7 linked regions of the Homo sapiens genome follow. The protein of the gene in region 1 purifies or fractionates together with the protein of each later gene. This does not show direct contact. Each region holds a gene or a part of one and is shown in the gene's direction. Other genes may lie near its edges.

Region 1 (3,500 bases):
AGTTGAAGAAGGGCAGGTGGGAGGGGGTTTGGGGAGGGATTGCCATGGAGGGACCTCAGATTTGGTGTCAGGTGTGGGGAATTGGGGCAGAGGAGGCACAGTCCTGAAGTGTTTCAGGTGGGTCAAGAACAGCCCTGAGCCAGGCGGAGTTGGAGAGAGAAGTGAGGGGCATTGGATGGGGGGGTCCTAGCAGAGCTGAGGGGTCTTAGTGGGAGTGGGTGGGGCGCTGGCAGTGGGGCCCTCGCCTGGGGTTGAGACTGTGCAGCACGAATGGGCCCCAGGGGAGCGAGGCTGGGGGTATCCAGGGTGAGGACTGAGCGAGCAGCTGGACTCTCACATCCAGGCTCAGGGTGGAGGGTGCCAATCTGGGAGGTGGGAGGTGCCGGAACCATCACCCTGAGTAGACTGGCATAGCTGCAGAGCTCTAGATGGAGCAGGCTGTGTCCCCTGCCCTCAGGACTCTATGCTGGTATCAAGTTCTTCCTCATTGATTTCATCTTTAAACGCTGCCCGAGGCTGCGCGCCAAGTACGACACGCCCTATATCATCTGGAGGAGTCTCCCCACCGACCCGCAGCTCAAGGAGCGCTCCAGCGCCGCAGTCTCACGCAGGGTGAGCCCGGCCCCCAGCTGCGGGGATGGGGGGATGGGGGGCCACGAAGCCGGGCATCCCCAGGCCCACAGTGCTCTGTTCACCTCCGGCTCATTTAGAGGCTGTTTCTTCAATTTTATAGACTCCTTAAACTTGAGGGTTTTTTTTTTCCCTGTTACCACTGCGGTTTCTGAGGCTCATCCAGCCCCTCCCAAGCCCAGGGCAACACCTGGGGACTGGCCATGATGACTGAGAGCCAGCAGGCCTGGGAGTGACCACTCCATGGGGGTGCCCGGCCCCTGCCATCCCTGACAGTGAGGCTCTGGCGCTGAGACCAGGCAGTTTGAGAAGGGCCCCCTTGGAGCCACAGCCTGGCACTGGGCCATATTTCATTCACAGTCACAGGCCCTCCAGATGTGCAGCACAGCATCCCAGCCAGGACCACGGGGAATGAGCAGGCCTCGGTGCTCCCTTCGGGGTGGCTCAGATGAGTCAGGAGGGTTGCTGGGCTCTCCCCACTGAGGTGAGGTGGCCCTGCCTGGAAGAAGGAGCCGCTCTGGGCCGGAAGGGACCTCGGGAACGTCTTCCCAAATTTGGATCCCAGCTTTTGGGGAGGTGTGTGTGCGGCCAGCACATCTGGGTGCTGCAGGCGTGGGCAGCGGGCCTGACCTCGACGCTGTTTGCCGTTGGCAGCTGCAGACGACCTCGTCACGGAGCTACGTACCCAGCGCACCGGCCGGCCTGGGTAAAGAGGAGGACGCCGGTCGCTTCCACAGCACCAAGAAGGGCAATTTCCACGAGATCTTCAATCTGACAGAAAACGAGCGTCCGCTGGCGGGTATGTGTGCCGTGAGTCTGAGGCCAGGCCGAGCGCCGACACAGACTGAAGGCCCGTGAGGGGGGCGCTGTGGATGCAGGACGGGGTCGCCCTGTGACAGGCCAGAGGAGCCCTCAGGATGGCATTCACATCCCACTGCCCCAGGAGGAGTGCAGGAGCCAGGGGTCATGAGGACTCTGCGGGCTACAGGGGAGGAGGGCGTGCCCGTGGGGAGAGCCGCCCACGCTGCAGCACTCCCCTGACAGCAGGCGTGCAGGCAACACACTGGGGAGAGAGTCCAGGGCGAGGCCTCAGGGCCTGCAGGGCGCTGGCAGGGGGTCTGCCCCTGGTTCCATCGTGTCTGGAGAAACAAGAGCCACCAGGGGACAGGTGACTCAGGATCCTGGGGACAGGTCAGCTTTCCCAAAGGGAGGGCCTGTTAAACTAAACCGGGCAGCTCGAGGTGTGTGATGAGCGGCTGCAGAGGCAGCTGCGGAGAACGGAGCTTCGTCCTCTGCTGAGCCCTGGCCCTGCCGGTCTTGGTGGAGGTGGTGTCCCAGCGCCCTGACCCTGCCGGTCTTGGAGGTGGTGTCCCGGCCACACTGTGACTTCTGTTGCTCCCTGCTCTGCCTGGGTGCTTTTACTTTAAAAACCCTGCCAGTGCCTGTTGAAGAGGAAACATCTGTTTTCCACCCTCTGGGGCCACCTCACTCTTGCCGGCGCGCCTTCCTCTCACTGTGGGTGTGACGTGAGCGCGGTGGGCGGATGTCAGGATCTGAGAGTCAGGCTCCTGGGTCCCAGCGTCAGGTCAGAGGCTGGGTACTTCCAGTGGAAAGTGTGACAGGCGGGCCTTCTCCCATTAGTGTGCGAGAATGGCTGGCGCTGCTGCCTCATCAACAGGGACCGGAAGATGCCCACGGACTACATCAGGAACGGGGTGCTCTACGTCACGGAGAAGTGAGTGCAGCCGTGGGGCCCTGTGTGGCTGCAGGGGAGGGGGCGCAGGAGGCTGCCTAGGCCCTGGGATGGCGTGGCTGGCCCAGTGCAGGTTTTCCTGAGTGGTGGCCATGGCCTCTCCCATGCTCTGCTCTTGCCGGCTGTCTGGGCTCCCAGGGAAAAGGTGTTGTCTCCAAGCCGGACGTGGCCTGGGCTGTACTGCTGCCATCCCTCAGGCTGGCGGGGATGCTGTCTTCTCTGGGGCCCAAGCAGTTCATGGAGACGAGGGGCAGAGTCTCCCAAGGAGGGGACCGTGTGGGGACCTGCTATTGCTGAGGCCCTGAGTCCTTGTTGCCCTGAGTGCCTCATGCAGAGCAGTGGCCGTGAGTGTCTCACTCAGAGCAGTGGCTGTGAATGTCTTATGCAGAGCAGTGGCCGTGAGTGTCTCACTCAGAGCAGTGGCCGTGAGTGTCTCAGAGCAGTGGCCGTGTCTCACTCAGAGCAGTGGCCGTGAGTGTCTCAGAGCAGTGGCTGTGAGTGTTTCACACAGAGCAGTGGCCGTGAGTGTCTCATATAGAGCAGTGGCCGTGAGTGTTTCACCGGTTCTGTGTCTGCTGGGAAGGGAGCACCACTGTCCATCCCACTGGGGGCTGAGAGGCAGCCCCGGGAGACCCCCACCTGGTGGGAGCGTGCTCTGGTTCAAGAGCCAGGCGACGCCTCTGTCCGTTCCCCTTCCAGTTACTTGTGCTTCGAAAGCTCCAAATCTGGGTCCTCAAAGAGGAACAAAGTCATCAAGCTAGTGGACATCACGGACATCCAGAAGGTTGGTGCACCTACCCACCCCCACTAACCCCCGTGTTTTCTTCGTCACCTGACAGAGGCTGGCGAGGCTTTCCCTATAGACTTCTGCCAGCCTCTGTCAGCATCTGGGCGCCGCGGCCACGCTGGCCGGCCATGGTCCGTTTCCTTGACTTGAGTCCCCATGTCCCTGTGGGTCTGCCCCTGCCCTGGGGTCCACTTGCCTGGACCGTGTGTCTCAAAGTGGAGGGGCTGGGTTGGAGCCCAGGAGGTCAGGACCCAAGCCCCACTCTGGCTGCTGTGTTCCCCTCGTATCTGGGACCCTCCCCATAAAGAAAAGCACAGGGGCCCTGAGCCC
Region 2 (3,500 bases), on another chromosome or scaffold:
ATGTCCCTTCAGGGCCAGGACTGATGTCTCTGCCCCTTTCCCCCCTCTATCCCTCGCTGAGCCTGGCCACCGCCAGTGAACTGTCTTGACATCATGGAAACTGGGCAGCGTCCCCCCACACGTTTCCCTCCCGCCCCCCCTGCGCCCCTGGGAGGACTCTGGCAGTGCCGTGCTGACTACCACGCCGTGCGCCCACCTTTTTTGCCAACCCAACCCCCCACCAATTGCACAGCGCCTAGCAGGGAGGGCTCATTCTGATTGGACCGGCGGTTGACTAGATACAGTACACAGTGAGGTGCGATTGGCTGAACTGAAGATCCCAGGTGTGAGATGGTACCTGGAACATTTGTCATATTCCTAGTTTATTTTCTTCTTTATTTTCTTCTTCTTTTTTTAATATTTTATTTTATTTTTTTCTATATCTTTATTTTTTCTGATTTCTTTTATTTATTTATTTGGTTCATGTTTTTCCTGTTTTAATTAAGACCTTTTTTTTTGTTTTGTTTTTCTCACTAACTTACCCATCGAGAGCGGCCCAGCTAGGGGTCAGGCTGGCCCTTAACAGAGACCAAGGAGACTTGGTTAGACGACACAAACGGGGCTGCGGGTGGGGGTGGATGGGAAAGGGATTTCATCACGAGGTTTCTGCCCTACCCTTTAGAAGAGTGGTAGAGTGGTCTTAGTTTTTCCAGAAATAAGCACCTACACTTGAAAATACTCTATTCCCTTTTTCTCTCTCACTTTTCTCCCCCGCCCCCCATAGTCTTTCGTCATTCACCCACTGAGTGTTTGGGGTAGAGACTTGTCCCAAAGATGTCTTCTGGTCTTTGGCAGAGCCCCTAAGGCTTGAGCCCTGGTTGGAGAGGAAACAGTAAGACTCTGCTGGAGCTCCCTGCGGTGGCTGGAAAGTCTAAGGATCTCCTTGGGGACAATCTGCCCTTCATAAAAACCTTCCTTTATCAAAGACACCTTTGAGTTCTTTTTGCTAGCACTTGGCTCAAGAGCCTCATCTCCAGTGGGTCTGGTGCTGCCCTTTTCCACAGTGTGGTGGGGGTCTGGGCAGTCTTGACATGACAGTCTGCTGTCCAAGCATCTCAAAGCCATTGTCAGTGGGCATCAGTCTGGCCATTGAAGAAAGGAGGGTTACCTTGTTGAAGTTGCCATCCAAAGTTGGTTTTCCTTGTTTCCTCGAGTTAGCAAGGAAGGACCTGGGAGGACTAGATGACCCAGTTTGGGGCACAGTTTGTTTGGCTTGGTGTCCTCTCGACTCAGACGGTGAAAGAGGGGGTATGACCAACATCTTTAGGGGGCTGAGAGGCTACTGAACTCCTCTTCCAGCTTATTTCTGGTTAAGCTAATACACAGGTGTGATACGGAGTAGATGACTTTTCCCTGCTCTGATGTTTAGTTTTATTTTTTTCTCTAACTTGCATTGATTCTGCTTCGTTTTTGCCGTTTGCCGCTTCTGTTTTGGTCTCTGTCTGTCTCTGTGTCTCTCTCTGTCTCTCTCTCTCACTCTATCTGTGTCTTTGGAGGCTAAGCTAAGACTGCCCCATCTAACCTCCTTCCCCCCTCTCTGTGGGGTGTCTCTCTTTCTCTTTTTTTTCCCCTTTTTCTTCTTCATACAGAGCTCGCTGCCCAAATCATTCAAGAGGAAGATCTCCGTTGTCTGTAAGTCCAGCCCCAAATCCCTGATAAAAGTCAGGAATACCATAAAAACCAGCATTCATTGAGAACCAGAATTTCATTCTCAATGGCATTCTTGGGTCACTCCCTCCTGCCCCACCCCTTGTGCCTAGCAAATCTGAATCCTTTCCTATGTAGGGTTTCATTTTGGAATTCAAAACTTGAGACAATCCCCATCATATTGCTCCAGTCACATTTTAATGAGATACAGTGTGAGGTGTCTGAGACCATGTCCCATTTAGCCTTAGAGGCATTTATTCTTTCAGATACCTGAATACTCAACAAGGAATGAGTTTCAGGGACTCCTATGTGATGCTTAGCAGTTTATGAATTATTCTGGGTATTTTGTTGTTGTTTTTTTGAGACGGAGTCTCCCTCTGTAGTACCCTAGGCTGGAGTGCAGTGGTGCGATTTTGGCTCACTGCAACCTCCGCCTCCGGGTCCCAGTTCAAGCAATCCTCCTCCGCCTCCTGAGTAGCTGGGATTAGAGGCATGCGCCACCATGCCCAGCTAATTTTTGTATTTTTAGTAGAGATGGGGTTTCCCCATGTTGGACAGGCTGGTCTTGAACTCCTGACCTTGTGATCCGCCTGCCTTGGCCTCCCAAAGTGTTGGGATTACAGGCGTGAGCCATCGTGCCTGACCTTGTTTATGCGTTATTCTAAGAGAGCACCCAAGGAAATGAAAGTGCCCCACACCTCAAACAGTAACAATTTTAACATTTTCCCCAATGAGGAACTCTAGATTACAAAAGTATAATAGATGTTTATAACTTAAATATCAATCTGTAGTGTGAAAATTAAAGGAAGACCAGATCCCATCATGATCTTAGTTCTGCCTAGATGTTAGTATCACATAGTGTTCTTGTTTCTTCTGCATTTACATGTCCTTCTCAGTTTTTCTTCCACACTACTTGATATTACTGTCTACCATTAAAAGTTTAAACGGCTCATCAAACTAGCTACCCCTCCCTTACTGCTTTTAGATCAGTGTTCAGTCTGAAGCCATGGTTTCCCCAGTTCCCAAATATGATTTCTTTTCTTTTTTTTTTTTTGAGACGGAGTCTTGCTCTGTCACCAGGCTGGAGTGCAGTCAGTGGCACCATCTTGGCTCACTGCAGCCTCCGCCTCCCGGGTTCAAGCAATTCTGCTTCAGCACCCTGAGTAGCTGGGATTACAGGCATGCACCACAACGCCTGGCTAATTTTTGTATTTTTAGTAGAGATGGGGTTTCACCATGTTGGTCAGGCTAGTCTCAAACTCCTGACCTCGTGATCCACCCGCCTTGGCCTCCCAAAGTGCTGGGATTACAGGTGTGAGCCACCACACTCAGCCTCCAAATATGATTTCTTTAAGTTAACCTTTTACCAAAACTCCAGCCAGAGGTAACCTGTAGGTATTACGGTTTGAACTAGCAGAGGTCCTGAGACCATCTAACTGTTGGGTCTATTTCTTGGGGACAGCAGCTACCAAGGGGGTGCCAGCTGGAAACAGTGACACAGAGGGGGGCCAGCCTGGTCGGAAACGACGCTGGGGAGCCAGCACAGCCACCACACAGAAGAAACCTTCCATCAGTATCACCACTGAATCACTAAAGGTGAGGTGGGAGGAGCCAGGGAAGGGAGGATGAGACCTGTTAAGGTGGGAGTAGACATGGGCCCAGTGTAACGGGGTGGGGGGTATCTGTGTCCCAGAGCCTCATCCCCGACATCAAACCCCTGGCGGGGCAGGAGGCTGTTGTGGATCTTCATGCTGATGACTCTCGCATCTCTGAGGATGAGACAGAGCGTAATGGCGATGATGGGACCCATGACA
Region 3 (3,500 bases), on another chromosome or scaffold:
GGACACGTTGGGAACAGGCCCCCCAATGTGGCCATAAACTGTCCCCAAAACTGGCCATAAACAAAATCTCTGCAGCACTCTGACATGCTCTTGATGGCCATGATGCCCACGCTGGAAGGTTGTCGGTTTACTGGAATGAGGGCAAGGGACACCTGGCCCACCCAGGGTGGAAAACCGTTTAAGGCATTCTTAAACCACAAACAATAGCATGAGCGATCTGTGCCTTAAGGACATTTTCCTGCTGCAGATAACTAGCCAGAGCCCATCCTTTTGTTTCCCGTAAGGAATACTTTTAGTAAATCTTATCACTGGCTTGCTGTCAATAAATATGTGGGTAAATCTCTGTTCAAGGCTCTCAGCTCTGAAGGCTGTAAGACCCCTGATTTCCCACTTCACATGCTGTATTTCTGTGTGTGTGTCTTTAATTCCTCCAGCACCGCTGGGTTAGGGTCTCCACAACCGAGCTGGTCTCAGCAGTAAATATTGAAAAGGAATAGATACAATTGTCATTATTTACAGATAGAATTTCCAAACAATTCCCAGGGAATAAACTGAAAAACTAACAGAAACAAAACAAGAATGTAGTAAGGTGTCTGGATAAGAGATTTGTATCTAAAAATCAGTAGCTTTACAATGTGCCAGCAGTAGTCTGCTCAGACATCAGTAAATATCTCATTCACATTTCAAAAAAAATTGAAAATGCCCTGAAATAATGTAACCAGAAATACGAAAAAAAGGATATGAAAACATGTGGCTGCTAATGGACATGAAAGAATGTAATACTAGATTCTGAGATGCAATGTTTTTCATTTGTTCTTCCTGAAAAACCATTAGGTTGATGTGCATTACAGTGTTACGATTATGTATGAGTCTAAGGAAAATCAGATGAAATGTCCAAATTAAACCATGAAGGTGCATTGGTAGAGGAAGAGAAAATTAGGGTCAGTGGAGCAAAGCACAGTTAGAGGGAGAAGCAAGGAGGAGGAGGGATCACTGAGGTGGTGCCTGTCCCACAGGAAGCAAAAGCTGACGCCTAGTTCCCAGCATACCTACAGTAAACTTCAGGTCCACTGCATAGCACGTCTCTCATCACAGTAAAACTATGAAGGAACTCAGTGTACAAGGAGCTTCTACAAGATAGGCAGAAGACAGTAGCCAGATGGGCCAAGGGCCCCAGCCACCCACGCCCCTCCCTCTCCTTGAAGACGTGCAGCTCCAACACCACCATCACCAGGGCTCTGCTCAGCTCCTCCTAGTGTGTATCACCACAGGGCTGCTGGCTTGTGTCACGTTCACCACCAGACCCCGCGTCAGGAGTCCCGCCAGGGGTGTGGAGAGGCAGCGCTGCCTGGTTGGCCGTGGAGCTGTATGGAACATGGTGCCTCACAGGCAGTCTGCTTGGAGTCCTGGACCCTGGCTGTATCCTGCTGGAAAGGATGTGTGTGGGTCTAAGATGTGTATGTAATAGAAACATTTATTTATTCAGAAGCTTTAGTCAAAACTTCATTTTTAAGTTTGGAGTAATAAACTCATAGTCTGAATTTCCTAATTTTTCTGTTTAATTTATGTAACTTTTAAGTGAAATGCAAAACAACAGGTCTAAAAGTTAAGCAGTTCTTGGTATGGCTGCTTCTATGGATTAAAAGTTTACAAATAATATTTTGTGCCACAGTCAATGCAAAATCATGCTGCCGTGTTCCGTGTGGGAAGCGTGTTGCAAGAAGGTTGTGGGAAAATCAGCAAGCTCTATGGAGACCTAAAGCACCTGAAGACGTTCGACCGGGGTGAGCAGACAGTGGGCTCTGTGCACACTGTTGGGCCCTTCCTTCTGCAGGGTGGGCTGGTGTCTGTCCCGTCAGTGCTGACTTAGTTCCGTGCTTGCTGTCTGGATGGGTCCTGGCCCACAGCTATAAAGCCACAACCAGTGACTCCATGGACTAGCAGGCCCAGGCTGACAGCTCGGAGGGCCCATGTGACTGGGTCCCGCCTGCCCCTGATGGAACTTTTTGTGTCCCCAGGAATGGTCTGGAACACGGACCTGGTGGAGACCCTGGAGCTGCAGAACCTGATGCTGTGTGCGCTGCAGACCATCTACGGAGCAGAGGCACGGAAGGAGTCACGGGGCGCGCATGCCAGGGAAGACTACAAGGTGGGCCTTCTCACCACGCCCACCTGCACCTGCCTTTTCCTGCCACCTGGTGGGACTCAGCCCCACCCCTGCATTTTCTCTGCATTTTCTTTCGTTGCCCCAAAAGTAAATCCAAAAAATGCCTTTTTCCCCCCTGGTAACTTTGATCCCTGGGTTCTCGCCATCTTCTGGATCACTGTGACCTTTTCCTTGCTTTGGGTCGGCATCCACTGATGCCAGCAGTGGCATCTCCAAGCCAATGTGCTTTGCTGTTAGAAGGCCAAGGTTAGAAGTGCAGCTAGAGTGGCAAGACCAGGAAATAAATGCCAGTTTATTAAATAACGAGTAAGCCATCATTTCAAGCCTGCCCTGTGGAGGAAATGCCAGTTTATTAAATAACGAGTAAGCCACCGTTTCAAACCTGCCCTGTGGAGGAAATGCCAGTTTATTAAATAACGAGTAAGCCACCGTTTCAAACCTGCCCTGTGGAGGAAATGCCAGTTTATTAAATAACGAGTAAGCCACCGTTTCAAGCCTGCCCTGTGGAGGAAATGCCAGTTTATTAAATAACGAGTAAGCCACCGTTTCAGACCTGCCCTGTGGTGGAAATGCCAGTTTATTAAATAACGAGTAAGCCACTGTTTCAAACCTGCCCTGTGGAGGAAATGCCAGTTTATTAACGAGTAAGTCACTGTTTCAAACCTGTCCTGTGGAGGAAATGCCAGTTTATTAACGAATAAGCCACCGTTTCAAACCTGCCCTGTGAAGGAAATGCCAGTTTATTAAATAAGGAGTAAGCCACCGTTTCAAGCCTGCCCTGTGGAGGAAATGCCCGTTTATTAAATAACGAGTAAGCCACCGTTTCAAGCCTGCCCTGTGGAGGAAATGCCCGTTTATTAAATAAGGAGTAAGCCACCATTTCAAGCCTGCCCTGTGGAGGAAATGCCAGTTTATTAAATAACGAGTAAGCCACCGTTTCAAGCCTGCCCTGTGGAGGAAATGCCAGTTTATTAAATAACGAGTAAGCCACCATTTCAAACCTGCCCTGTGGAGGAAATGCCAGTTTATTAACGAGTAAGTCACCGTTTCAAACCTGCCCTGTGGAGGAAATGCCAGTTTAGTAACGAGTAAGTCACCGTTTTAAGCCTGTCCTGTGGAGGAAATGCCAGTTTATTAACGAGTAAGCCACCGTTTCAAACCTGCCCTGTGGAGGAAGTGCCAGTTTATTAAATAATGAGTAAGTCACCGTTTCAAGCCTGCCCTGTGGAGGAAATGCCAGTTTATTAAATAACGAGTAAGTCACCGTTTCATACCTGCCCTGTGGAGGAAATGCCAGTTTATTAACGAGTAAGCCACCGTTTCAGACCTGCCC
Region 4 (3,500 bases), on another chromosome or scaffold:
GGCATCTTCCCAGGCTGTCAGCTTGTTGGAAGAGGTCATCACTCCCCGGAAGGACCTGCCTCCTTTACTCCTCAAATTGAATGAGAGGCCTGCCGAACGCCTGGATTACCTGGGTGTTTCCTATGGCTTGACCCCCAGGCTCCTCAAGTAAGTGCCTGCCCTCCTTCCACGGCATCACTCCTTGGCATTGAGAAAGAAGAGTTCTGTGGGCTGTGTGTCTCTGTTGGTAGCTGGTATCGGTGCTAGCCTGCTATTTGTGGCGTGCTCTTCCTGGCTCTTGCCCTTGTGTGTCTATCAGCCACTCCCCAGAGGCCACACACAGTGACCTACTGTCTTTGTATCTTTGCAGGTTCTGGAAACGAGCTGGATTTGTTCCTGTTTATCTGAGACAGACCCCGGTGAGTGAGGCATCCAGCAGAGGAGAAGTTTAGGTTTACCGTTATGGTAGGTGACAGGCCTGTCCTTGCAAAGAGCCCTAGTGCCTCCCTGCTGCATCGCTCTGAGCAGGTGGCTGTGCCTCTGAAGAGGTTTATTCTGATGGACATGGAAACAGCCATCCTCAGTGACAGGCCACATCATCACACATTTCTTCTCCGACTACACGGTGCATGCGTTGAGCTTAGTCATAAAATGGCAGAGGTACACGTGGACTTGTTCATCAGATTCTGGGAAAGGAGAGTGGACAGGAGGATCAAGGGTAATTCCTAGAGTTTTGGCTTGAGAAACTGGGTGTTGGAGGTGCTGTCGGAGATGGGACTCACTGCAGGAGGAGCAGATTTGGAGGGAAGAGTGGGAGTTCTTTTTTGATGTTAATATGAGATGCCTATTGGACATCCAAGTGGAAATGTGGACTAGGCATTCATTTGACTACAGGAATTTGGAGGTAGGGAAGTTTGGGGCTAGAGATGGAGCTTTGGGAGCCATCAGCATATTCATAATAGAATGCACTGCAGGAGGGCACGGAGCTCTTGTCTGTTGTGTTCATTGCTGTATTCCTCGCACTTAGAGTAGCAATTGCTGTGTAGTTTGTGTTCAGTAAATACTTTTGTTGAGTGAATGAAAAATATCTGGAGCCAATGAAAGGATGTGAGAGTGACTCCTTGGACCCTAACGTTTAGAGGAATGAAGAGGAGGACACAGCACATACAAGACTGAGAAGGAACAGCCCTGATGCGCAAGAGAAAGTCGGGTGTGGTGTCACACGTCAAGGTGAAAAAGTGGGAATGGGAGTCAGCCCTGTTGAGAGGATGAGGAGGATGAGGACAGCTGGCCATTGGATTTGTCAGCAGCGGTGAGCTGCATTGAAGCAGCTGCAGTGGAGTGGAGGCTTTGGCCTGGCCAGAGGGAAGAGGAGGTGAAGAACTAGAAGGGGAACAGGCGACTCTTTCAGGAAGCGAAAGGGAGCAGAGAAACAAGGTCGCTGGAGGGAGATGGGCGCTAAAGAAGGATTGTCCGATGGGAGATTCTAGAGAATGTTTTTTGCTGCTGGGTTCGATCCTGCAATTAGTGGTATGGGTGAGGGGGGCTGACTGCCAGAGTGCAGGCCTTGAGGAGGTGGTGGGTGGGACTCGAGATTCAGGAAGAGAGGTGACCACCTACTTCATCCTTCGGAACAGGGAAGGCAGAGAGCGTGGGAATGGAAGGCATCAGTTGGCTGGCTGATCTGGGGTTGGGAGGATGAAGACATTGTCTTCTGAGTGCTTCTGTCTTCCCAGATGAGGGGAGTCCATCGGCTGAGAGGGAAGTGTTGGAGGTTTGATTTTGGAGAGGGCAAAGTCAGTATCAGAGGCTAGTGTCCAGTGTCCGTCCGAGGGTTTAAAGTGGGACTGGTGAGGACTGCTGGGTGTTGGGCTGCTTCCGTGCAGGCAGGGAGCTGCAGAGATGGGTTGAGTCTCTGTCAGTACATTTGGTGGAGGCTGAGGATGTAAGTTTGGCTGTCAGCTGCAAGGAGAACGCAAGCTAGTGAGCTGTGGTGTGGTCTGCGGTGTGTCCGTGTGGTCTTGCACTGTGCACTGTTCATTTGTGACTTGGTGGTGTTTTTATGGTGTGGGGCTTTGTTGTTATGGAGTAAAAAATGTAAAAATAGTCACAATTTTAACACCTAAAGAAGCCTGCACTTGCAGACTGGCTGCCAGCACTGAGGTGTAGGTTTTGGCCCTGGAGTTCCTGCTGTGAGGCATCAAACCCATGTTGACTGGATTGTGTGGCGCTTAAGCCCTAATGACTGAGTTCAGCATCTACCTGAGAGGAGCACATATTTCCCTCCCGCACGTCCCGAGCAAGAGGCAGGCCCAGAAGAGCCAGCAGCTCTTCTCTGTGTCTGTGACACTTTTGAGGAGATTGCAGGACAGTGATCTTTGCAGCTGTTGTGTGTGAACTGAGGTGATATGAGGAAGGTGAAGGCGAGGGCTGTTTGAGAAGGGCGCCTACCCCCAGCCTGGAAAGAAGGAGAGGCCTGCGGAAGCACTAAGCCTTTCTTCTCTGAGTGTTTACCCTTCATCAATGATGGGTTATTCAAAAAAAGGGGGTTCTTGGTGCCAGTTAAACCTCTGTGTTGCCCAGAATGACCTGACCGGAGAGCACTCGTGCATCATGCTGAAGACGCTCACTGATGAGGATGAGGCTGACCAGGGAGGCTGGCTTGCAGCCTTCTGGAAAGGTGACTGAGGAGTAGGGGTTTGGGGGAGACAATGAGGTGATTGGGGGCTGCCGGGGATGCCTCCAGACCTCTAACTCTGCGTGATGGCACCCCACAGATTTCCGACGGCGGTTCCTAGCCTTGCTCTCCTACCAGTTCAGTACCTTCTCTCCTTCCCTGGCTCTGAACATCATTCAGAACAGGAACATGGGGAAGCCAGCCCAGCCTGGTGAGCCGGGTGGGGACAGGGAGGAGGGTTGGGAATGGCTTGGCTGTGTGGGAGGTGGGTGTGGTGTCCTAGGAAGGGTTTGGGCTGGAAATTGAGGGACTGGTTCTAGCCTGCAGTCACTCGCTGGTCACCACCCGCTTGCCAGGCCCCTGCTCTGTCCCAGGCTGTGCTGTCTTTCATTTTCATGGTAAGACTCTGGCTGTGCAATTTAATGTCAGAGGTGTCCATTTAGTTCATGTAGCTGGTTGGTTATGGAGGCCGATTTACATCTGTGCTCTAGGGGAGTGAGGTGCTCCATCTCTGAGGTTTAGTTTCCTGATTCATGAAATTGTAATAAGAATATGCTGCTAGCCTTCTGTAGCCAACAGCACACAGAAGTGCTTTGTGCATACAGATTGTTTGAATACTTAAAAAACAAAAAATGTGTAAGAGATTAGTTTTATTGCATATTTTATATATAAATATTTAGGTATAGCATGCATATATGTGTATATGTGTGTGTATATACTTTTTTGCCAATTATATTTTGATGGAGAAATCCGTATATCTTGAGCTGGGCAGAGCTTACACACTTTCTGTGACACCAAATGAAGTGACAAAGCAGGGAAAGAGTGTAGTTGTGTTCCCCTAACC
Region 5 (3,500 bases), on another chromosome or scaffold:
TCGTTGACTCAAACTTTGGTTTATCTTTCTAGAATTTGTTACTCTTTTTTCCTAGTGAAAATATATCCTTTTTATTAATAATGCCCAACATTCCACTTAAATGGAAATACTTATAAATCAGATTTTCAGTGAAAGGGTCTAAAACATAATTGTAATGATTTAGAAATGTCATTACTGTGGTAAATTATAGACCTAGGCTTTGCTAAGGATTTCGTCCTGTTTTGTGCTTCACTTATAGTTTTTGTTGTTTTACTCAAAGAAGGGAAATGGAACATCCAATGTGATAGTATTTTATGACCTAGGCAGATTCCATTATATTGCTTTTAAATAGCTCCTATTTCACTAAAGAATGGGAACGAAGTGATAGTTACAGATTTCATCAGTATGTAAAAAGTGAAGGGTTTCTTTTAGGTAAAGATTTCTTTAAATGTACCTGTGAAATGATTCAGCATTTTTAAAATGGAAATGCTTTTGCTGTCTTGGAGTTTTGTTGTTTCAGAAGTTTTCTACTGCACTATTTTGGATAGTCTTTCATTAAAGGACCTAAGCATGAATTACTCTGAAATTTTCTAGTTTAAGTATTGCATAGAAAGTTCATTTTATTGTGTTAATCTCTACTAACTTGAAATATGCCTTCCAAATGCATGACTTACTAAACAGTATTAAGGTATTGGCTGAAGTTTCAAAATAGCGTTACCAAATCTCTTAAGAGTCTTTGGTAGTTTGTGGTCGCTGTCTCTTAATATTAATTACCTTTGTTCTGAAATTGTTGTTTTAGTAATTTTCACTTCATGTAAAGGCAGCATTTGCTAATGTAGTTGCTATACCTTAATATTAAACCCCAGAAATTCTATTTTTGTCTGATAAGTGGAAATTCTACCATAATTTGGGGCAATTCCCCAATATAATAAGTTGTTTCCTCTGAAATGTTTTATTAGCTAAATTAATGCTGCAGTAATAAAGTCTATAATCTTCCCTTCATTTTACTTTTTTTTGCGTTTTTATATGGAAGATTTAGTGACTTATTAACCAGACTTAATATGCTATGGAGATAATGTACAGATATGTATATATTCTTTTTCTTTTTAAAACAGATGAGCTTTGATCCAAACCTTCTCCACAACAATGGACATAATGGGTACCCTAATGGTACTTCAGCAGCACTGCGTGAAACTGGGGTTATTGAAAAACTGTTAACCTCTTACGGATTTATTCAGTGTTCAGAACGTCAAGCTAGACTTTTCTTCCACTGTTCACAGTATAATGGCAACCTGCAAGACTTAAAAGTAGGAGGTAATCTGTCAGTTCTCCTTTGTAAAAATGTAATCACAAAATTTGTCTTGCATATCAATTTGTTCATGAGTGTTTTTCAAAAAGTTTTATGTAAATTAAAACATTTTGGACTTTTAGTTGTACTGTTTAGTGAAGAATATCTGTATAAACCAGCAGAATCCTTGAAAGATTATATTTGCATATATTTACAATAAATGCTTGGAAGATTTCATTGTTTTTCCCCATAATGATGACTGTTTACCCGTAAGATTTTAAGCCAGTACGAATATTGAACTTTTGTAATGTTACTTATGATTATTCTGTCAGGTACTATTTTGGGTAGTACCTGAAAAAAGTAATCCTTAGAGTGTCACCTCTTAGAAGCTGGGCGCGGTGGCTTACGCCTGTAATCCCAGCACTTTGGGAGGCCGAGGCGGGCAGATCACGAGGTCAGGAGATAGAGACCATCCTGGCTAACACGGTGAAACCCCGTCTCTACTAAAAATACAAAAAATTAGCTGGGCGTGGTGGCAGGCACCTGTAGTCCCAGCTACTCGGGAGGCTGAAGCAGGAGAATGGTGTGAACCTGGGAGGCGGAGCTTGCAGTAAGCCAAGATGCCACCACTGCACTCCAGCCTGGGCGACAGAGCGAGACCCCGTCTCAAAAAAAAAAAAAGTCACCTCTTAGATTATATGGAAATTCATTGTGGCTGACACCATACAAATTATTTCACAGGCCTGGCATGGTGGCTCATGCCTGTATTCCCAGCATTTTGGGAGGCCAGGGCAAGTGGATTGCTTGAGCTCAGGAATTCAAGACCAGCTTGCAGCCTGGGCAACATGGCAAAACCCCATCTCTACAAAAAATGCAAAAATTAGCTGAGGAACGTGACATGTGCCTGTAGTCCCAGCTACTAAGTAGACTGAGGTGGGAGGATCGCTTGAGCCCGCAAGGTAGAGGTTGCAGTGAGCTGAGATCGTGCCGCTGCACTCCAGCTTGGGTGACAGGGAGACTCTGTCTCAAAAAAAAAAAAAAAAAAAAAAAAAAAAAGTTTTTACATGTGAAGTGTTTGGCTTACTAAAGGACTGAAATTATGAGGCCTCTGTGCATTTTTAAAAAACGTTTGAGAAAAGAGTCAGTATAATAGCTAACAAGATGCATGCTATAGGAACATTGTTTTGGTTAATCCTCATGGCAGTCCTGTTAGGAATTATTCTCCTTTTACATAAGAGAAAACTGAGGTACAGAGGAGTTTAAAAAAAAAACTCGCCAAAGGTTATGATTGTTAAGTCATCTCATTTGTAGTATGTGTAAATGCCATAAAAACTAAGATTAAGACATGGCTATCTTAGCATAAGATGGTGGTTCTGAAACATTTGTGTGTATCAGAATTAGTGGAAGGCTTGTTAAAACACAGATTGCTATACTTGATCCCCAGAGTTTGTCTTTGGCTAGGACTAGAGTTAGGCCCAGTATTTCTTTTAAGCTCCCAGGTGATGTTAATGCTGCTGGTCCAGGGACCACACTTTGAAAACCACTGGTCTAAGGCAATTCAAATGCTATGTTAAGTATAGCTTGGAAGCAATATATCGTTTCGCAAAAATCAGTTCAACAAACATAACACATTATTTATTTTTAGATGATGTTGAATTTGAAGTATCATCGGACCGACGGACTGGGAAACCCATTGCTGTTAAACTGGTGAAGATAAAACAAGAAATCCTCCCTGAAGAACGAATGAATGGACAAGTTAGTGACTTTGATGCTTTGTGTTTTTTTAGGGCCCTGCATTTGCATATCTTTCACATTAGAAAAGGAAGATTCTCCCCATCTCCTCAGTTTGCACGAAAGAGAGCTATAGTATATAAAGATTACTATTTTAAAATTAATCAAAAGCACTGGCATTTCTTGACCTGAAATAAAAATATGGTCAAGACTCAATTGGGTTTTTACATATAACCCTGAGTCAATGCTTACAGTCAATTTACATACTGTAAGTTTGAAACTTGGCAGCATGACATCCTCTTGTGGATCATATTAAAATGCATCCCTGTATATAGTATAGAGGATATTAAAATTCAGTTTATATTGCACAGTGCTGCTCCTGAAATGATTAGCAATGGAAATTTTTTTTTTTTTGACTGGTAGGTTGTGTGCGCTGTTCCTCACAACTTAGAGAGTAAATCTCCAGCTGCCCCGGGTCAGAGTCCAACAGGGAGTGTATGCT
Region 6 (3,500 bases), on another chromosome or scaffold:
GTTTCAGCTCTCATGCTGTAAGCAGGTGTCCTTTTTTGTGCTGTTCAGAGCCCTTTTTCATTTTTGTGATTTTTGTTGGTAATTTTGCTACTTAAAATGGCCCTCAAGCATAGTACTGCCTAAGTACAAGAAGGCTATGATGTATCTTAACAGACAATATACATATGTTAAATTATCTTCATTCAGGCATGAGTTACAGAAATGTTGACTATGAGTTCAATGGTAATAAATCAACAGTATATATGAATAAGGTGTCTTTAAGCAGAAATACGCATGAAACAAGGCTATATATTGATCAGTTGACAAAAACATGGTGACCAGAGGCACACAGGAACCTACCCCTGTATTTTCCTTAGGAGCAGTGATTCAGTGTTCACTAATTCAGTGTTCTCAGAAACTTTATAGAACATAAATACCAGGAATAATGAGAATTAACTGTGCTTTTGTATTGGTTTCCTAGCAATTAAAAATTGAGAGCCCTAAAGTTTAAATGAGGATGCCTTAAAAAGAATGCAAATAGCTGGGCGCGGTGGCTCAGGCCTGTAATCTCAGCACTTTGGGAGGCTGAGGTGGGCGGATCATGAGGTCAGGAGATCGAGACCATCCTGTATAACACGGTGAAACCCCATCTCTACTAAAACTACAAAAAATTCGCCGGGCGTGGTGGCGGGCGCCCGTAGTCCCAGCTACTCGGGAGGCTGAGGCAGGAGAATGGTGTGAACCCGGGAGGCGGAGCATGCAGTGAGCCGAGATCGTGCCACTGCACTCCAGCCTGGGTGACAGAGCAAGACTCCATCTCAAAAAAAAAAAAGAATGCAAGTAATTGGACAGAAATAAGATACTAAGAATTACAAATAAATGTCAAGCTTATATGTTTACCTTCTTTTATACCTCCATATGTCACTGAAGTTTTAAAAGAGTTGTCTGTAAATTATATGCTAGGTTTCTGTATAAAAACATCAAATTATCTTTTAAATGAAAGAAGTTGAACTGAAGGTATGTGATTTGTATGTTAGGAAGTGTAAATGCCCATAAAATTCAGATACATTCAGTTAATCAGACTCTGGTTATAGCTTATTTCTTTCAGTTTTGATGACTTTAAAGGGTTTTCTGTTTGTTTTTAGCCACCCCAGAGGAAGAGAAATTGCAATGCAACTAGTCACCTGAGTGGAGCTCTTTTGCCCTAAAATTCAATTTAGTAATAAATGAATAATCAGGTGTTATATTACACAAGATTAAATAATGCCTCCTGTTTCATATACAGAATGTATACATTTGACATTGTTTTAAAATTATTTACTTATTTAATATACCTTTATGTGAGTTAAAATGACCCAATGTTACTGTATGTGGAGAGCAAAAAGATTTGTTTATACAAAAGATTAATTTTATTGCTCTAGACAACCCTTAATTGTCTAGAGCAACAAAATGCAGACTGTTAGGCTGTGTAAGTTTCTTCATTTCTGAAAGATGTCAGTCAACCTGTAGCCCAAATTAGACTGTAGCATGGTTGTAGTGCTATATTACAGTGTACTGCTTAGCATGTAAAGCTATAGCTATAATAATTGTTCATTCTTACAGTGAGTTGAGTGTTTGTTTGTTTTTGGGAGATTATGACGGGTGCTTATTGTGCTGGCTGATTCAACCACCTACTTAGTTTGTAAATTTTGCTGTGTAACTCAGGTTATCCATAATTTTCGTTACTTACAACGTAATGTTTAAGTTTATAAATTAAGAATTTCCCTTCACCATATATTGAGGAAAAAACTGTAACACTAAATTAGAAAGTTCTTCTGCTTTGATAGCAGAGTAGTGCTGTCTGTCAGAGTGGGAAGAAAATTTAAGATTAAAATGTAACAGAAAGGAGGCCAGGCACAATGGCTCATGCCTGTGATCCCAGCGCCTCGGGAGGCCAGAGCAGGAGGATCAGTTGAGCCCAGGAGTTTGAGACCAGCCTGGGCAACATGGCAAGACCCCATCTCTACAAAAAATTTAAAAAATTAACCAGTTGTGCCAGCGCATGCCTGTAGCCCCAGCTACTCAGGAGGATCACTTGAGCCCAAGAGTTTGAGGCTACACTGAGCTCCAGCCTGGATGAGAGTGTGAGATCCTGTCTCAGAATAAAATAATAATAAACAACATAAAGGAATGTACAGATGTTTCATACTCTGCCCCAGAGAAAGTATCAGTCTAAATACATAAAAGTCAAGTCCTGTGCCTCTTGATGAAAAAACTGCCTCTTGATGAAAAAAGATAGAAAATAACTGAGTTTCTGAAGTAGTTTTTTAGTGTATTGTTGATACTTAATTCATTTAAAAATGTACTTGTTGAAAAGACAAAGTACTTCAGAAAGAGTAGTTTCTTAGTTCTACATGTGACAGCCTCATTTTTATCCCTGATACCCATTCTCAAAATTTAAGCCATTGTTTCTGTAAGTCATGTGGAAAAATAGTCTTTAGGTTATATACTACCTTTTTTTTTTCTAGGTAGTAATTACAGTGAAAAATGTGACGTCTTCAGCTGGGGTATTATTCTTTGGGAAGTGATAACGCGTCGGAAACCCTTTGATGAGATTGGTGGCCCAGCTTTCCGAATCATGTGGGCTGTTCATAATGGTTCGTAAAAAGAAATTTTTCTTAAAAGTACTTTTTGTGTTTTCTACTTGGAAGACTACTCCTGTCCCCTTCCCTAAAGAATATCATTTATCTCTAACATTAAAATGTACAATTCTTTGTTAAGAGACTGCTTTGCTATTATCAGACTCTGCCCTGTCCCTGCCCCAGAGTCCAGCAGAGCAGGATTGAGAGTAGTCCTGGTCTACACATGCGGCTGAGGATGTTCACTGGCTCCGCTGATTAGGGAAAGGCCATCAGTACGCAACCTAGACAGTTGGCTCTCTCTTAGGGAGAAGCATCAGGCTGGATCATGGAAAAAATAAAAAAATACATACATAAAATCTCTGACATGGTTAATATAACTGGAGAGTTATAGCCCTTTTCTCCTGAAGAAGCAAGGGCCTCATCAAGGAGAAGAAGCAAAGAATAATAATGCTTCACATATTTTTCCTGTTTATATTCTCACCCACCCTTAGAAGGTGAGTACTGTTGCCTCATTTTACAGATTAGGAAACTGAGGCCTAGAGAGGTTAAATAACTTGCTTAAGGTCACAAGATTAGTAAGTGGTAGAGCTGGGATTCAAATCCAGATGCTTCTGACTTGAATGCTCATATCTTAAGTCATATTGACTTATGGACTCAATGTCCTTGCATCTGTCCTGTTTCTTTTATAGTTCTGGTAATGTTGTTTTTAACCACATATGATGTTAGAATGCATCCTCTTCATTAGTAAAGTTACTTTACATTTGCTTGGGAAAATAGCTTTTCATGAAGGAAAATTACTTACCTTCTTAATTTTAGCGCCACTCTTAGTTATTTCATTTCTATGCCTTGTTTATAATCATGTGACTAATGGCCATTTTTTACATTATTCCACAAGTCTAA
Region 7 (3,500 bases), on another chromosome or scaffold:
ATTTACAGATGATTTTGTTGTTCAATTAACGAAGAACTGATACTGGTATAATTTGATCACCTAGGCTTGTGGTTCCTACACGGGGATGTAGTAGCCTTCTCGAAACAGACATTTGAGCTCCTCTGGCTTTCATCCGAGCTTCTGGTGTTTAGTAGGAAATAGTCTCCGAAGTGCAGGTCATGTAGTCCTAGTGTTTTATAGTTATAAAGCTGAATTGTTCTTACAGGAGTTACAGAGGTCTATAAAGAAAATGTCCATAATCTCTCTGTCTTCAAGTTCTAGTTCCTTAGCCCTAAAGTCAGCAAAGTTAACATTTGGTGTCCATTATTCCCACACTTTTCTCTTTGTTCATATCATCGTGTATAAACATATACACAGGCTGGGCATGGTGGCTTTCACCTGTAATCCCAGCACTTTGGGAGGCTGACGCTGAGGTGAGAGGATTGCTTGAGGCTAGGAGTTCAGGACCATCCTGGGCATTAAGGGAAGACCCCATTTCTACAAAAAATAAAATATTACAGCTGGGTGCAGTGGTGTGTACCTGTAGTCCGAGCTACTCGGTAGGCTGAGGCAGGAAGATTGAGCCCAGGAATTTGAGGCTGCAGTGAGCTATGATTGTGCCACTGCACTCCAGCCTCTATGATAGAGGGAAAAAAAAATCCATATACAGACATTGATTATTTTATTTTTCTTTATGGAAGTGGGATTATATTATGCGTGTAATTTTTATAACTTTTCTTAACAGTATGTGAGGGTCATCCTTCCAGATCATTACATATAGCTCTAACATTGTTAATAGCTGCGTGATGCTCTATAATACTGGTATACCCTATATGCCACTTATTAATAAACTTAAGTTACTTTCATTTTTTCCATCATAAGTAAGACTGCTTAATCATTGGAATAATAATAGATTTTGTTAAAAAGGCACCCCTTTGGTATAAATCTCAAATGGCCACTATTTTAGAAACATTAACATGGAAAATAATATTTCTTCTAAAGTTAAGATTAACAGAACTGACTTTAATTTGTTTTATTTTAGTTATTAGATCTTTTGATGTCAACAAACCTGGCTGTGAAGTTGATGACCTTAAGGGAGGTGTAGCTGGTGGTAGTATCCTAAAAGGAGTATTAAAGGTAAAATGGGTTTTGGTTGTTGTGATTTTGGGTTTTTTTTTTTTGTTGTTTGTTTGTTTGTTTTATCCTTGTCTTAATCAGGAAAAAAAGTATGGACAATCCAAATTGAAAAATAAAATTTTTTCCATGGTTTCTGGTATTTGATGTAGAGTTCTCTTTTTTAATATTCTTTTTTTCTCTCTTCAAACTTCACTCCTCCCACCCTTCTAGACCTCTGAATCCACAATCTACCTTCATGAGATCCACCTTTTTAGCTTCCACATATACAGATGAGTGAGAATGTGTGATATTTGTCTTTTTGTGCCTGGCTTATTTTACTTAACAAAATGGCCTCCAATTCTAGATGTGCTGCTGCAAATGGCAGAATTTTTTTTTATGGCTGCATAATACTTCATTGCATATATATATATGCTGCCATTGCTTTTCTTTTCTTTTTTTTTTTTTTCTTGAGGCGGAGTCTTGCTGTTTCGCCCAAGCTGGAGCGATCTCAGCTCACTGCAACCTTCACCTCCTGGGTTCAAGCGATTCTCCCTGCCCCAGCCTCCCAAGTAGCTGGGATTACAAGCACCCCCCACCATGCCCAGCTAATTTTTGTATTTGTAGTAAAGACAGGGTTTCACCATGTTGGCCAGGCTGGTCTTGAACTCCTTACCTCAAGTGATCCACCCGCCTCGGCCTCCCAAAGTGTTGGGATTATAGGCGTGAGCCACTTTGCCCGGCCTATATACTGCATTTTCTTTATCCATTCATCTGTTCATGGGCACTTAGGTTGATTCCATGTTTGGCTATTGTGAACTGTGCTACAATAAACATGGGAGTGCAGATACCTCTTTGATAATATTGCTTCCCTTTCTGGTGAATGTATACCCACTAGTGAAACTGATGGATCATATGGTAGCTGTATTTTCAGGTTTTCAAGGAACCTCCATACTGTTCTCCATGGTAGCTATACTAATTTACATGCTCTGATAATAGTTTTTTTTTTGTTTTGTTTTTTGAGCACAGTGGCATGATCTTGACTCACTGCAACCTCCACCTCCTGGGTTCAGGTGATGATTCTCCTGCCACAGCCTCCCGACTTGCTGGGGCTACAGGCACTCGCAACCTCGCCCAGCTAATTTTTTTGGTAGAGATGGGGTTTTGCCATATTGGCCAGGCTGGTCTCTTAACTCCTGACCTCAGGTGATCTGCCTGCCTCAGCCTCCCAAAGTGCTGGGATTACAGGCATAAGCCACCACGCCCAGCTATATTTCTTTGTTTTCTGTTATGTCTTTTGAATGTGTCTGACTTGAAAATTTATAGACTTGTAAGTATGGAGCACATTTGATGTGGTAATAGACTTGTGTGGTGGGTAGTTAACAACAGTTGGATGGTTCTGGTTTTGACAGTCTCGTTCACATCTTTTTTTTTTTTTTTTTTTAAGAATAATGATCTTTGAAATACAGGAATGATTGCCTTTTCAGTTTTATGGTCTTCCGGTTGGACCTTTATTATTATTTTATTTTATTTTATTTTTGAGACAGAGTCTCTCTTTGTCACCCAGGCTGGAGTGCAGTGGTGCGATCTCGGTTCACTGCAACCTCTGCCTCCCAGGTTCTAGCAATTCTGCCGCAGCCTCCTGAGTAGCAGGGATTACAGGTGCGTGCCACCACACCTGGCTAATTTTTGTGTTTTTAGTAGAGACGGGGTTTCACTATGTTGGCTGGGCTGGTCTCGAACTCCTGACCTCAGGTGATCCACCCGCCTCGGCCTCCCAAAATGCTAGGATTACACATGTGAGCCACCGCACCCAGTCCCTGTTGGAACTTTTGATAGGTAAATGATAATTTTGCGTAACACAGTAATTCTAATTACTAATTATATGTTTACAGGTGGGCCAGGAGATAGAAGTAAGACCTGGTATTGTTTCCAAAGATAGTGAAGGAAAACTCATGTGTAAACCAATCTTTTCCAAAATTGTATCACTTTTTGCGGAGCATAATGATCTGCAATATGCTGCTCCAGGCGGTCTTATTGGTAAGGATTTTTTTCTCATCTCTTTTAATTTGTGGCTATTTGTGGTACTTTTCATGGGGGATGGATTACCAAAAGGGACATATTACAGATTTTTAATTGGGTATTTTAATAATAGAGTAGGGTGGGGAACAATCATGTGGTTAAGCTCTTGTTTTAGGTTATAAGATGGTTTCATGGGTTTGTAAAAATTATTTTTAAACACAAAGGATACATTTTGATCAAATATAGAGTAACTCCTTTTTAGCAATATAAAAAAATAAATTTGATGACTTATCATGTAAGATATTTACCTACACTTATGTTTTTGTTAACATGATTTTTGTGCTAGATAATGGTTGCCTTTTTTT

Evidence for each region.
Region 2: the proteins of GRAMD4 (region 1) and ACIN1 purify together in Homo sapiens (affinity purification with mass spectrometry, with the first as the bait; one study listed by BioGRID). This does not show direct contact.
Region 3: the proteins of GRAMD4 (region 1) and SDHA purify together in Homo sapiens (affinity purification with mass spectrometry, with the first as the bait; one study listed by BioGRID). This does not show direct contact.
Region 4: the proteins of GRAMD4 (region 1) and NAT10 purify together in Homo sapiens (affinity purification with mass spectrometry, with the first as the bait; one study listed by BioGRID). This does not show direct contact.
Region 5: the proteins of GRAMD4 (region 1) and CSDE1 purify together in Homo sapiens (affinity purification with mass spectrometry, with the first as the bait; one study listed by BioGRID). This does not show direct contact.
Region 6: the proteins of GRAMD4 (region 1) and MAP3K7 purify together in Homo sapiens (affinity purification with western blotting; one study listed by BioGRID). This does not show direct contact.
Region 7: the proteins of GRAMD4 (region 1) and EIF2S3 purify together in Homo sapiens (affinity purification with mass spectrometry, with the first as the bait; one study listed by BioGRID). This does not show direct contact.

The regions. Positions count from the first base shown.
Region 1 is NC_000022.11:46,672,386-46,675,885, forward strand, and holds part of GRAMD4 (GRAM domain-containing protein 4), read left to right. Parts: intron 1-457; coding exon 458-612; intron 613-990; coding exon of another isoform or gene 991-1,113; exon of another isoform or gene 1,114-1,261; intron 1,262-1,284; coding exon 1,285-1,429; intron 1,430-2,271; coding exon 2,272-2,365; intron 2,366-3,082; coding exon 3,083-3,167; intron 3,168-3,500. UniProt on the Homo sapiens protein: Plays a role as a mediator of E2F1-induced apoptosis in the absence of p53/TP53. Plays a role as a mediator of E2F1-induced apoptosis in the absence of p53/TP53. Inhibits TLR9 response to nucelic acids and regulates TLR9-mediated innate immune response.
Region 2 is NC_000014.9:23,064,137-23,067,636, reverse strand, and holds part of ACIN1 (apoptotic chromatin condensation inducer in the nucleus), read left to right. Parts: exon of another isoform or gene 1-277; intron 278-1,628; coding exon 1,629-1,671; intron 1,672-3,148; coding exon 3,149-3,282; intron 3,283-3,379; coding exon 3,380-3,500.
Region 3 is NC_000005.10:249,320-252,819, forward strand, and holds part of SDHA (succinate dehydrogenase [ubiquinone] flavoprotein subunit, mitochondrial), read left to right. Parts: intron 1-1,672; coding exon 1,673-1,784; intron 1,785-2,018; coding exon 2,019-2,149; intron 2,150-3,500. UniProt on the Homo sapiens protein: Flavoprotein (FP) subunit of succinate dehydrogenase (SDH) that is involved in complex II of the mitochondrial electron transport chain and is responsible for transferring electrons from succinate to ubiquinone (coenzyme Q).
Region 4 is NC_000011.10:34,136,629-34,140,128, forward strand, and holds part of NAT10 (RNA cytidine acetyltransferase), read left to right. Parts: intron 1-13; coding exon 14-147; intron 148-349; coding exon 350-398; intron 399-2,562; coding exon 2,563-2,659; intron 2,660-2,756; coding exon 2,757-2,867; intron 2,868-3,500. UniProt on the Homo sapiens protein: RNA cytidine acetyltransferase that catalyzes the formation of N(4)-acetylcytidine (ac4C) modification on mRNAs, 18S rRNA and tRNAs.
Region 5 is NC_000001.11:114,737,485-114,740,984, reverse strand, and holds part of CSDE1 (cold shock domain-containing protein E1), read left to right. Parts: intron 1-1,094; coding exon 1,095-1,293; intron 1,294-2,912; coding exon 2,913-3,022; intron 3,023-3,421; coding exon 3,422-3,500. UniProt on the Homo sapiens protein: RNA-binding protein involved in translationally coupled mRNA turnover.
Region 6 is NC_000006.12:90,552,573-90,556,072, reverse strand, and holds part of MAP3K7 (mitogen-activated protein kinase kinase kinase 7), read left to right. Parts: intron 1-2,486; coding exon 2,487-2,615; intron 2,616-3,500. UniProt on the Homo sapiens protein: Serine/threonine kinase which acts as an essential component of the MAP kinase signal transduction pathway. Plays an important role in the cascades of cellular responses evoked by changes in the environment.
Region 7 is NC_000023.11:24,064,956-24,068,455, forward strand, and holds part of EIF2S3 (eukaryotic translation initiation factor 2 subunit 3), read left to right. Parts: intron 1-1,042; coding exon 1,043-1,137; intron 1,138-3,008; coding exon 3,009-3,153; intron 3,154-3,500. UniProt on the Homo sapiens protein: Member of the eIF2 complex that functions in the early steps of protein synthesis by forming a ternary complex with GTP and initiator tRNA.